Homo sapiens: one gene and its partners. The protein of the gene in region 2 purifies or fractionates together with the protein of the main gene of each other region. This does not show direct contact. Each region holds a gene or a part of one and is shown on either strand. Other genes may lie near its edges. The genes, in order: NUP88, ARFGEF2 and ZDHHC11.

Region 1 (2,321 bases), on a different chromosome or scaffold from region 2:
AATCTGTCTTGTCATTTTACAAGCATTAGATTCCTTTCCTGTGTGAAGAAAGCCTCAGTGAAACAGGTCTTTGCCATAACTTTATGAAGTGCTACAGAAAGCACAAAGAATTGATTCATGTTCATCAATACCTGCTGAGAGTACTGTCCCAGGAATATCCAGTGGATGGATTCATCATCCAGGAGGTTCAAAAGTAAGATGGTTTTCAAATCATTTTTGAGACTGGTTGCATAACAGCAGGGTACCTGAAAGAGCCTTCTGGGAGTTAGTGAACTAGGTAGATTGTTTTGTTCACATAACGCCACCATCAACTTAAAGTGAATTGTCTTTGTTATAAATGAGGTCACTATGGACTTACCCTAAAGATCTTCTGTACTTCTGTCTTCCATAGGACAAATGATAAGTACTACATACCTCATCTCTTGGGTTATTATTGTAGTCTTGCATTCATGGTTATGAATTTAAAAATAAATACCAATTATGGAAATAGTACTAAAGGCTTGCCGCACATGAAACATTATTTTAATTGGTTTAAAGTCCCTTTATAAAGAGTGCTACATGGTTTAGATAAAGGAAACATATAACTATTGAGTTACAGGGGATTTTATTAATTATAAAATGCAATCAATTTAAATTACGTAGGTTTAAGACTAGTCCCTTGGATAAGCCCCAAGCGAATTTGTCTTCAGATTATTAAAATTAGTGCTGTAAATCAGGGTGGGCAATTCACAGCCTTTCTGAACTGACTGAACTAGAGCTTGCAGTGAAGTGTTCTGCTGAGACTGAGCACCTTACAGATATTTTTCTCCAGAAGATGGTGCTGGGTAATAAAATCATCACAATTAGGGAATGGTTAGTGGTCTCTACTGTGGCAAATGCCAACTGTTGGAATTCACTTTATTGTAGAAAAACCCAAACTGAGACTCTTAAGTTTTGTTTAGCAATGTGTTTCTGGTATGAAACAAACTACTGTGTCACTGTCCAGGTAGGAAACAATTCTTTCAACTGGGTTTTCAGCATAAATGGGAACTGATGTAGAAGGCAGGATTTAGCCCTTCTAGGCAAAAGAAAAGCTCAGTTGGGTTTCACGAGTGTTCCTGTGCTTATATTCAGTCTGTGCCTACATGTTCTCATGCATGTCTAACCTGATTTACCTCTTACCTGTAACCTACCTTATCATGTGGCTTTTAATTGACAGTCACTCAGCCATTTCTAAGCAGATATAGTAGTACCTTTCAGAACTCACATTGGCAAGTGTAAAAAGATGACTTAAGGTGAAGTGAGGACAAAATCACATTCTGCATACTAACCTATTTTTTTCTCCCTTTAAGGTGCTAAACTTGCACCTCATGTCCACTCAGTAACAAGTATTGGGACGTAGAGCACAGCCTCACTCAGCTCTGAAAGGTAATACAGCTTGTGAGGAAGTGAGCCAGCAGTGGCCTTTGCAATTGTGGATCTTGAGCTCTGCTCTCAGCAGATTTCAGGTGTAACCATTTGTTAACTGTACTGAAGGTGTGTCCTCAAGAAGAAAGTGTTCAAATTAAAAAAGCTGCTGCCAAGTACACTGTGTGGTCTTCTCCTTTGAATCCTAGGGTTCTATCCCTCTTCAGAGTCATGTTTCTGGTGCTGCTACTTTAAAACACAGCTCACAAGAATAACTAACTTGCTCAAATATGGAGAAAACTCAATAGGGTTCAGGGAGGTTCTGGCAGTGTGCAGTGTGAAATAATCCTGAGTCCTTGCTGAACACAACTGTAGGCTTGAGTTATAAAGCACATTCCAAATTTTAAATAAAAGCATTTACTCAATTATTATAAAACAACATATTTAAAAAGATGAACCACACCAAAGGTCATCAAAACACCTTTTTATAAATTAGATAATTCTACCTGTTTTACAATATGGGTTTAAGCCTTCAATGGTGTTCAGTTCAGGTGTGAGTCAGCTCCTGGTGGTGTCAGAAGTTTACATGATTGCGGATATCATTGATTTGCTTCACCATTTCCCTTATATGTTCACCCCTGTAAAATTGTAAAGTCACTCACTTTTGGAATTATAATAAACCATTTATATGGATTCTTAAGAATTTAAACTGGTAATGTTGAAACATCTAAGAACTGCTTTGCTAAAATTAACAGCTGAAGGTTTCAGGTGGATAGCAATAGTGTTCACTATTCATTTAAGGTGGCAAACGGTGCAAGTACTGGAAATATTTTTGAACATAATTACTGTAAAATACCTTTGGCCACACAACAAAATCATGTTACTAGAAGGTCATCCCTTTCAATCCTCCCACCATAGTCATTTCTTAAGTCCCT
Region 2 (3,656 bases):
AAAAAAAAAAAAAAAAAAGATTGCAACACCAATGCCTCTGAATTTCAGCAGGTCATCTGTTAGGTGCCAGGTACTGTGCCAGTTACTTACTGCACTAGTCCATTTAACCTTTGCAATAATCCTGTGACAAAGGTATTACTATCTTTATCACCTTGGGAAACTGCGGCCCAAAGAGGGATCACTGGACTATCAATAAGCAAATCAAACTTTCAAAGTCTCAATCAACTCTCTGCCAATCCTACATATAAATGCTTTTCAATAATCAAGAACAATCCAGTTTTTTGATGCTGCTTCCAGACAGATAACCTCCTCCTGAAGAATCCACAGTGGTTTTCAACAAAAAGTAATCTTCCAGGGTCCTGAGTCCTGTTATTTCTCAAAATTTTTATGATACATAGCACTTATAAACGAAATGTCTCATCAAAACACTAGAATTTGCTAAAATTAAAGGCTTTATTCTGCATTTCAATTTAAAGTCTTGTTATGTCAATTTATTTATTTATTTTTTAATTTTTTTTTTTTTGAGACAGAGTCTCGCTCTGTTGCCAAGGCTGGAGTGCAGTGGCGCCATCTTGGCTCACTGCAACCTCCACCTCCCGGGTTCAAGCAATTCTCCTGCCTCAGCCTCCCAAGTAGCTGGGATTACGGGTGTGCGCCACCACGCCCAGCTAATTTTTGTATTTTAGTACAGATGGGGTTTCGCCATTTTGGCCAGGCTAGTCTTGAACCCCTGGCCTCAACTGAGCCGCCCGCCTCGACCTCCCAAAGTACTGAGATTACAGGCGTGAGCCACCATGCCCCGCCACGTTACATCAATTTAGAGATGTTTTTTATATTTTTCAAGTTTCACAGTAATCCTCATGATGAGAATGGTTTTTCTGAACACATCAAAATTAGAATAAAAGGATCATATGGAAGAAAAAGCAATTTATGTATCATATGGACACACAGATGTCCATATGATAAATGCCCATTTGTATGTCTTACACACATTCATATACAACTAAGATTTAGGAATATACTTCCTTAACTGGATCCCTTAACAATATTTAAAGTTAAAATCTTTTCTACCTTTAAATAAACAAACAACTCCCAGGAGCCACTCCTTCTTCCTCTTTACAACACAACCAAACTTTGGGAGAGCTGACTATGCTCACCATCTGTTTCCTCACCTCCCACGCCTCAACCCATGCCAGTCTGGCTTTCACCTCCATCACAGCATCAAAAAAGCTCAAGCTAAGGTCACCAATGACCCATCCACATCCTAAATCTCGTATATTAAACAGAGGAGCAAATCTAAGAATGGATGTTATGATCTATGTGAAGCTACATCATGTGCTGCAGCTACGTTTCCCCACCCAGCTGTGTGGATGTGGATGGGCAAGTTGCTCTCTTCCTTAGCCTTGGTCTCCCATTGCCTGCTGTACCCAAAGAAATGAATCACAATCCAGAATTAATAACAGGTCACAACTCCAGAATTAATAAGAGGGAGTTTACTGCTGATGAAGAGATATCATCAATTAGAAAAACTGATTAACTCCAGCCCAGACAACAGAAAAACCCCGTCTCTACTAAAAACAGAAAAATTAGCCAGGTGGGTGGTACGCCCCTGTAGTCCTAGCTACTTGGGAGGCTGAAATGGGAGGATCACCTGAGCCAGGGATGGAGAGGTTGCAGTGACCTGAGATCGCACCCCACCACTGCACTCCAGCCTGGGCCACAGAGCAAGATCCTGTCTCAAAAAAAAAAAAGAAAAACTGAATAACTCAAATGAAACTTATGTGTAACCAGCTCTTTACTCTCATTTCCTTCTTTCCATTAGCCCCTAATTAAAGTAAACCTAGTATATATGTAGTAAAAACCTGAAGAAAAGAGCTGTGATCTTTTTGACTCAAGGCTTTCAAACATATCTCAAAATTCAGCTATAGAAAATACAGTCTCCTGAAACTCCACTGCGGTATACTGATTGTTTTAAAAACTCTACTGAGTATTTCAAACATAACAACTTTCATATGGAGAAGCAAGAAAACATGGTAGTAATAGTTAAGATCTTGGACTATGGAGCCAGATTGCCTGTGTTTATACCCTGGTTCCATCACTTACTGAGTTACCCTGGCCAACTTAACTTCTCTGGGCCTCAGTGGGAATGATGATAATAGTGAGAACTAAATTGCATGAAAAGCCCACTTTACTGTGCCTGGAACTCAGAAATGCTTAGTACATAGGAGATATAATACAACATGTGATCTTTAAAAGTCATTCAATTTCATATGAAAATACGTATGTTTACTATTCTTTTTAAATTTTCTTGATAATGGCTGAGAATAATGACAACTAGTAATTATAGAGCACCTAGCCATTACTTAGCACTTTTGTGTGAGGGTCTCACCCTGCTGTCTCGGCTGGAGTGCAATGGCATGATCTCAACTCACTGCAACCTCCATTTCCTAGGTTCAAGTCATCCTCCCACCTCAGCCTCCCAAGTAGCCGGGACTACAGGCATGCACTACCACACCCAGCTAATTTTTATATATTTTTTTAGAGATGGGGTTTTGCCATGTTGCACAGGCTGGTCTCAAACTCCTGGGCTCATGCAATCTGCCCACCTTGGCCTCCTAAAGCGCTGGAATTACAGGCATGAACCACAGTGCCCAGCCATAGATAAATTTTTCCATATCGAATTTTAAATAGATTATCCTATTAAGCCTCCAAACTTCATATAGTTTAAGAGCAGAAACATAACTTAAAGATACATGATGGGAGAAGATGAGTCTTAAATAAGACAATTATAAAAGGGAGGTTTAAGAATGTAATTATATTCTCCAACAGAGGGCTGAAAGGTTGAAGATTATTAATATATATCAAAGTTTCATAACAAGGTAAAGAGCAACAGTATCCTTGGGGCGATGAATACTCTCACAGGCTGTCTTGATTTCTCCAGATAAAGGTTGGAAGGGCACTATCCCCTACTTGGGCAGTCCCTATTTATGCTTTTGGTGTATAGTGCGGACGAATCATTGAGATTACTCCAAATCTGCTCCATCATGATTATCACAATTTTTACAAAGGACAACCCCTGTCTTCATTGAGTTTAGGAAGTTAATACTCCAACACAGCCTTTCAATCACGTAATTACATTCTTATTTACTGCATCTACAAACCAAATAGAGCAGTAAGTCATTCCTGAACGAGGAACTAAGGTTAAGAACATCAAACCAGAGTAATTACAGCTGCTGTGGTTTGTCACAGCTTAAAATAATAATAATAAAAAAGTAATAGCAAGCATTTACTGAGCACCTACTACATGCCAAGTTTTTTGCACATGTCAATTAACTTAATCTTTACAATAATCCTATAAGGAAGTAACTTGTCCAAGATCACAAACGTAGCAAGTGGAAGGCAGGAGGTTTGAACACAGAAGTCTAGGGTCCCAAAGAATACACTCCTAGCTAACATCTACACTATACAGTCCCTGCAGCCCTGATCCTCTCCCCTAATATGCTACAGCTGGTGGAATCATATCACAGAAGCTGTTTCCTGTAAATGCTCTCTATCATCCAAGCATTTCAACTTTGAGCCGTCATTTACAGTTCCTCTTATCACAATTAACAACAATCTATACATGGTAATCTCTAAAATACCACATAGCTGCTCCT
Region 3 (3,656 bases), on a different chromosome or scaffold from region 2:
ACCCCTTCCTAAGTGCCGGGGTCACAGCGCCCACCCCCCTTCCTCACTAAGTGCCGGGGTCACAGTGCCCACCCCTTCCTCACTAAGTGCCGGGGTCACAGTGCCCACCCCTTCCTCACTAAGTGCCAGGGTCACAGCACCCATCCCTTCCTTATTTAGTGCCAGGGTCACAGTGCCCACCCCTTCCTAAGTGCCGGGGTCACAGCACCCACCCCTTCCTAAGTGCTGGGGTCACAGTGCCTGCCGGCTCTGCCGGGCCCCAGCACCCATCCTTTCCTAAGTGCCAGGGCCCCAGCACCCACCCCTTCCTTACTAAGTGCCAGGGTCACAGTGCCCACCCCTTCCTTACTAAGTGCCGGGGTCACAGTGCCCACCCCTTCCTCACTAAGTGCCAGGGTCACAGTGCCCACCCCTTCCTCACTAAGTGCCGGGGTCACAGTGCCCACCCCTTCCTCACTAAGTGCCGGGGTCACAGTGCCCACCCCTTCCTCACTAAGTGCCAGGGTCACAGCACCCATCCCTTCCTTATTTAGTGCCAGGGTCACGGTGCCCACCCCTTCCTAAGTGCCGGGGTCACAGAGCCTGCCAGCTCTGCCAGGCCCCAGCACCCATCCCTTGCTCATGGCCCACTCTGTGTCCCTGGACCCGCTGCACCCTAAAACAGCTGCCTTCAAATAGAACAGGAAAGCCACAGCTCTCGCCTGGGGTCATTTCTAAGATATGGTCCTCTGTGACACTGGGCTGCCAACACTCAAAACCACACTTCCAAAAATCAGGCGTAATGCAGAATGGCAGAGGGCCAGGCAAGGCAGAATGGCAGAGGGTGGGGCAAGGCAGAATGGCAGAGGGATGGATTCAGCATGGATGTCTTTGGGTGACTCAGCATGGATGTCTTTCGGTGACAGACCCTCTCTGGAACTGGTGGCCTCGGGGCCATCCTAGAAGGCAAACACCACACTCAGCCTGACAGGACCGCAGCTCCATGTGCCTGGGCCGGGCTGGACCCCATGCTGCCCCCCTTAGCCAGTGACATCACGATGAGTTCAGCCCATGAGAAGAAGGAGCAGCTTTGCTCAGGGCCTTGCTGGTTTTGAAGCCCTGCAGAATCATCTGGAACAGCAAACCCAGGAATTCACTCAGGCCACAATCAATGAATTCACACGGAGACACTGGCACTGCCCTGTGGAAGCAGCATGTTCCAGGAGAGAAGGCAGCACATGCCATCTTGGCCACCTCTGCTCTCTCACTCTCCCCTGGCATCCCCCACAGGGAGAGCCCAGACAACATGGAGGCTGCTGGGGAAGGTGACTTGCTACTGGGGGAGAAGAACGCAACAGGCATCGTCCTGGGCTTGGGTCCGCTGAGGTCAGGGCCTCGCCAGGGTGGAGCTGGCTTTCAGGAAGTGCTTCAGAAGCGGCTGTGAGGCCCTGGAGGCATCAGTCACGCTTCGAAGTGGAAGGAGGAGCTTTAGGGACTTCCACGTGGAGCTGGCAAAGCTCATCCTTGAAAAAAATGTCACACCGTGTTGGCTCCGGAATGTTCTGGAACAAGGGCAGGCAAGTCCTCCCTGTCTCGCCACCCGGGCTGTGTGCAGTGCGGGTGCAGCCATGCCTGGGGCTGAGACTGGCAGTCTTGTCCTGCACCCCGAGGGGCTTCTCTGGCCCAGGTCCTCCTGGTCAGGGTCCTGGCGCTGCTGCAATAAATACATCAAATGGTGGCGGGTGGGGGCAGCTTCTCCAGCAGACTCTTGCAGTCTGAGGCAGGCAGGGCTCTGACGTCCAGCTGCAGGACAGTTGGGCACGCTGCCTCCGCAGGGTCCAGGGAGGTCTTCCCAATTTTGCCAGCTCCTGTGGCTCCCGGCGACCCCGGGCTGTGGCTGTGTGACTCCACCCCTGCCTCCATCCTCACGAGGCCACCTCCCCTCTGTGTCTCTCCTTTCTCTTACAAGCACACTCGTGGCTGGATTTGGGCCCCCTGGGACATCCCAGCACGACCCTCCCACCTCAGATATTAAGTCACAGCCACAGGCCCATTTCCCGAGGATGCTGGCATCACGGGATCTGGGTTAGGCGTGGACTCGCCTCTGGAGCCCACAGTCCTCACCGCCACGTCTCTCCAGTGGCTCAGTGTGAGCATCGGTTCCCGAGGCCCAGGCTCCGGGCCCACTTGGCCAAGGGCCTCAGCGCACCGCAGCCTACAGCCCAGCACCCTCAGCGCTGCCTCCACTCTCCCTCCCCATGGGCTGCTCCTGCAGGATGGGCACCCCCACCCTCCCACAACTACATGGCCCCACAGGATGGTGTGACAGGTGCTACAGGGATGACTGCGGAGGGCAGGGGCAGAGGTGGACCCCACTGTCTCTCGCCTGACACGACCTGGCAGCATCTACAGAGCAGCGTGGCCAGCGCCCTCCCCGAGCCTGCCTCCCGCGCGCTGGGGGCTGCTGGGCTGTATGAACACTGGGCTGCTGCCGTCGGGCCAGGTCAGAGCCTGCATGGGGCTGCCTGCCCCGGCCTCTCCCTGGGACAAGAGGGGCCGACCACCCCAGACCCGATACTACCACCCGGAAAGACGGCTGGAGGCGAGGATGAGGCCCCTTGAGAGCGGCGGCCACGTACCTTCATACCTGGGGTCCGTGCGGAGCACCCCGGGGTTCACGAGGTACTGGACGAGGACATACAGCAGGATGGCGATCAGGCAGAGCATGCCAGCTGTGGCCGAGGCCACAGTGCTGAAGAAGAACCTGCCGGGAGACACACAGGCAGGCATGGGGGTGGGGACGTGGGAGCAGTGGGGGCGCAGGGGCAGGTGTGGGGGGCACGGGGGCAGGGGGTGTGCACGGGGTGGGCAGGGGCGGGCGTGGGGGGCACAGCGGCAGGGGCATGCGGGGCATGTGGGACAGGTGTGGGGGCGGGGAGGCAGGGGCAGGGACACGCAGGGCATCTGAGGCAGGGGCGGGGGCATGCAGGGCAGGTGGGGGGTGCAGAGGCAGGGGCAGGGACACGCAGGGCATCTGGGGCAGGGGCGGGGGCATGCAGGGCAGGTGTGGGGGGCGCAGGGGTGGGGACGCGCAGGGCATCTGGAGCCCGCAGGGTGGAGGTGACAGGTCAGTGTGGGCGTCCACTTGAGGGCGCCTGGCCACCGCCCAACGCTGGCCTCAAACCCTGCTCCCGACCGCGCCTGGAAGCTCAGGCTCCTGTCTCTGTGCCGTCCTGTGACGCCCCCCCAGGTCTCCAGGCCTCTCGCTGGAGAGGGGTGGCCGTGGGACATTCCCACCAGCACACCGCCCGACAATTCAGGCAGCGCTTCTTGCAAACGTGATTGCCTTTAATCCCCACAAGGAACAAGGAGGTTGTGAGGAGGGGGAACCAGCCCTTTTCACGAGTGGGGAAAGTGAGGTCAGAGATGCGGTGCGACTCGCCCAAGCCTACCAGCGGAGCATGAGGGTCACACGGCGTCTCCAGTGTCACAGCTCTGGGGCCTCTGCCCGCACCTCCCGACTCCACCTGATGCAGACAGGCCTCCCTACCAGCCAAGGAGCACGCGGGCTCGGTCCACTCGGGGGGCCCTGAGCATGGTCTGTGCTGGGGTCTCCATGGCACCATGCTGGGCAAAGGCACTGAAGCCAGGGAAGGGGAGAGCCACGAGAGTGCCGT

What was found.
Region 1: the proteins of ARFGEF2 (region 2) and NUP88 fractionate together in Homo sapiens (co-fractionation; one large-scale study listed by BioGRID). This does not show direct contact.
Region 3: the proteins of ARFGEF2 (region 2) and ZDHHC11 purify together in Homo sapiens (co-immunoprecipitation; one large-scale study listed by IntAct). This does not show direct contact.

Annotation. Positions count from the first base shown.
Region 1 is NC_000017.11:5,384,246-5,386,566, forward strand, and holds the end of NUP88 (nuclear pore complex protein Nup88), read right to left. Parts: intron 2,096-2,321; exon of another isoform or gene 2,025-2,095; coding exon 1,961-2,024; 3' UTR 588-1,960; downstream 1-587. UniProt on the Homo sapiens protein: Component of nuclear pore complex.
Region 2 is NC_000020.11:48,924,555-48,928,210, reverse strand, and holds part of ARFGEF2 (brefeldin A-inhibited guanine nucleotide-exchange protein 2), read right to left. Parts: intron 1-3,656. UniProt on the Homo sapiens protein: Promotes guanine-nucleotide exchange on ARF1 and ARF3 and to a lower extent on ARF5 and ARF6. Promotes the activation of ARF1/ARF5/ARF6 through replacement of GDP with GTP. Involved in the regulation of Golgi vesicular transport.
Region 3 is NC_000005.10:840,982-844,637, forward strand, and holds part of ZDHHC11 (palmitoyltransferase ZDHHC11), read right to left. Parts: intron 2,744-3,656; coding exon 2,619-2,743; intron 1,694-2,618; coding exon of another isoform or gene 1,516-1,693; exon of another isoform or gene 712-1,515; coding exon of another isoform or gene 702-711; exon of another isoform or gene 1-701. UniProt on the Homo sapiens protein: Endoplasmic reticulum-localized palmitoyltransferase that could catalyze the addition of palmitate onto various protein substrates and be involved in a variety of cellular processes.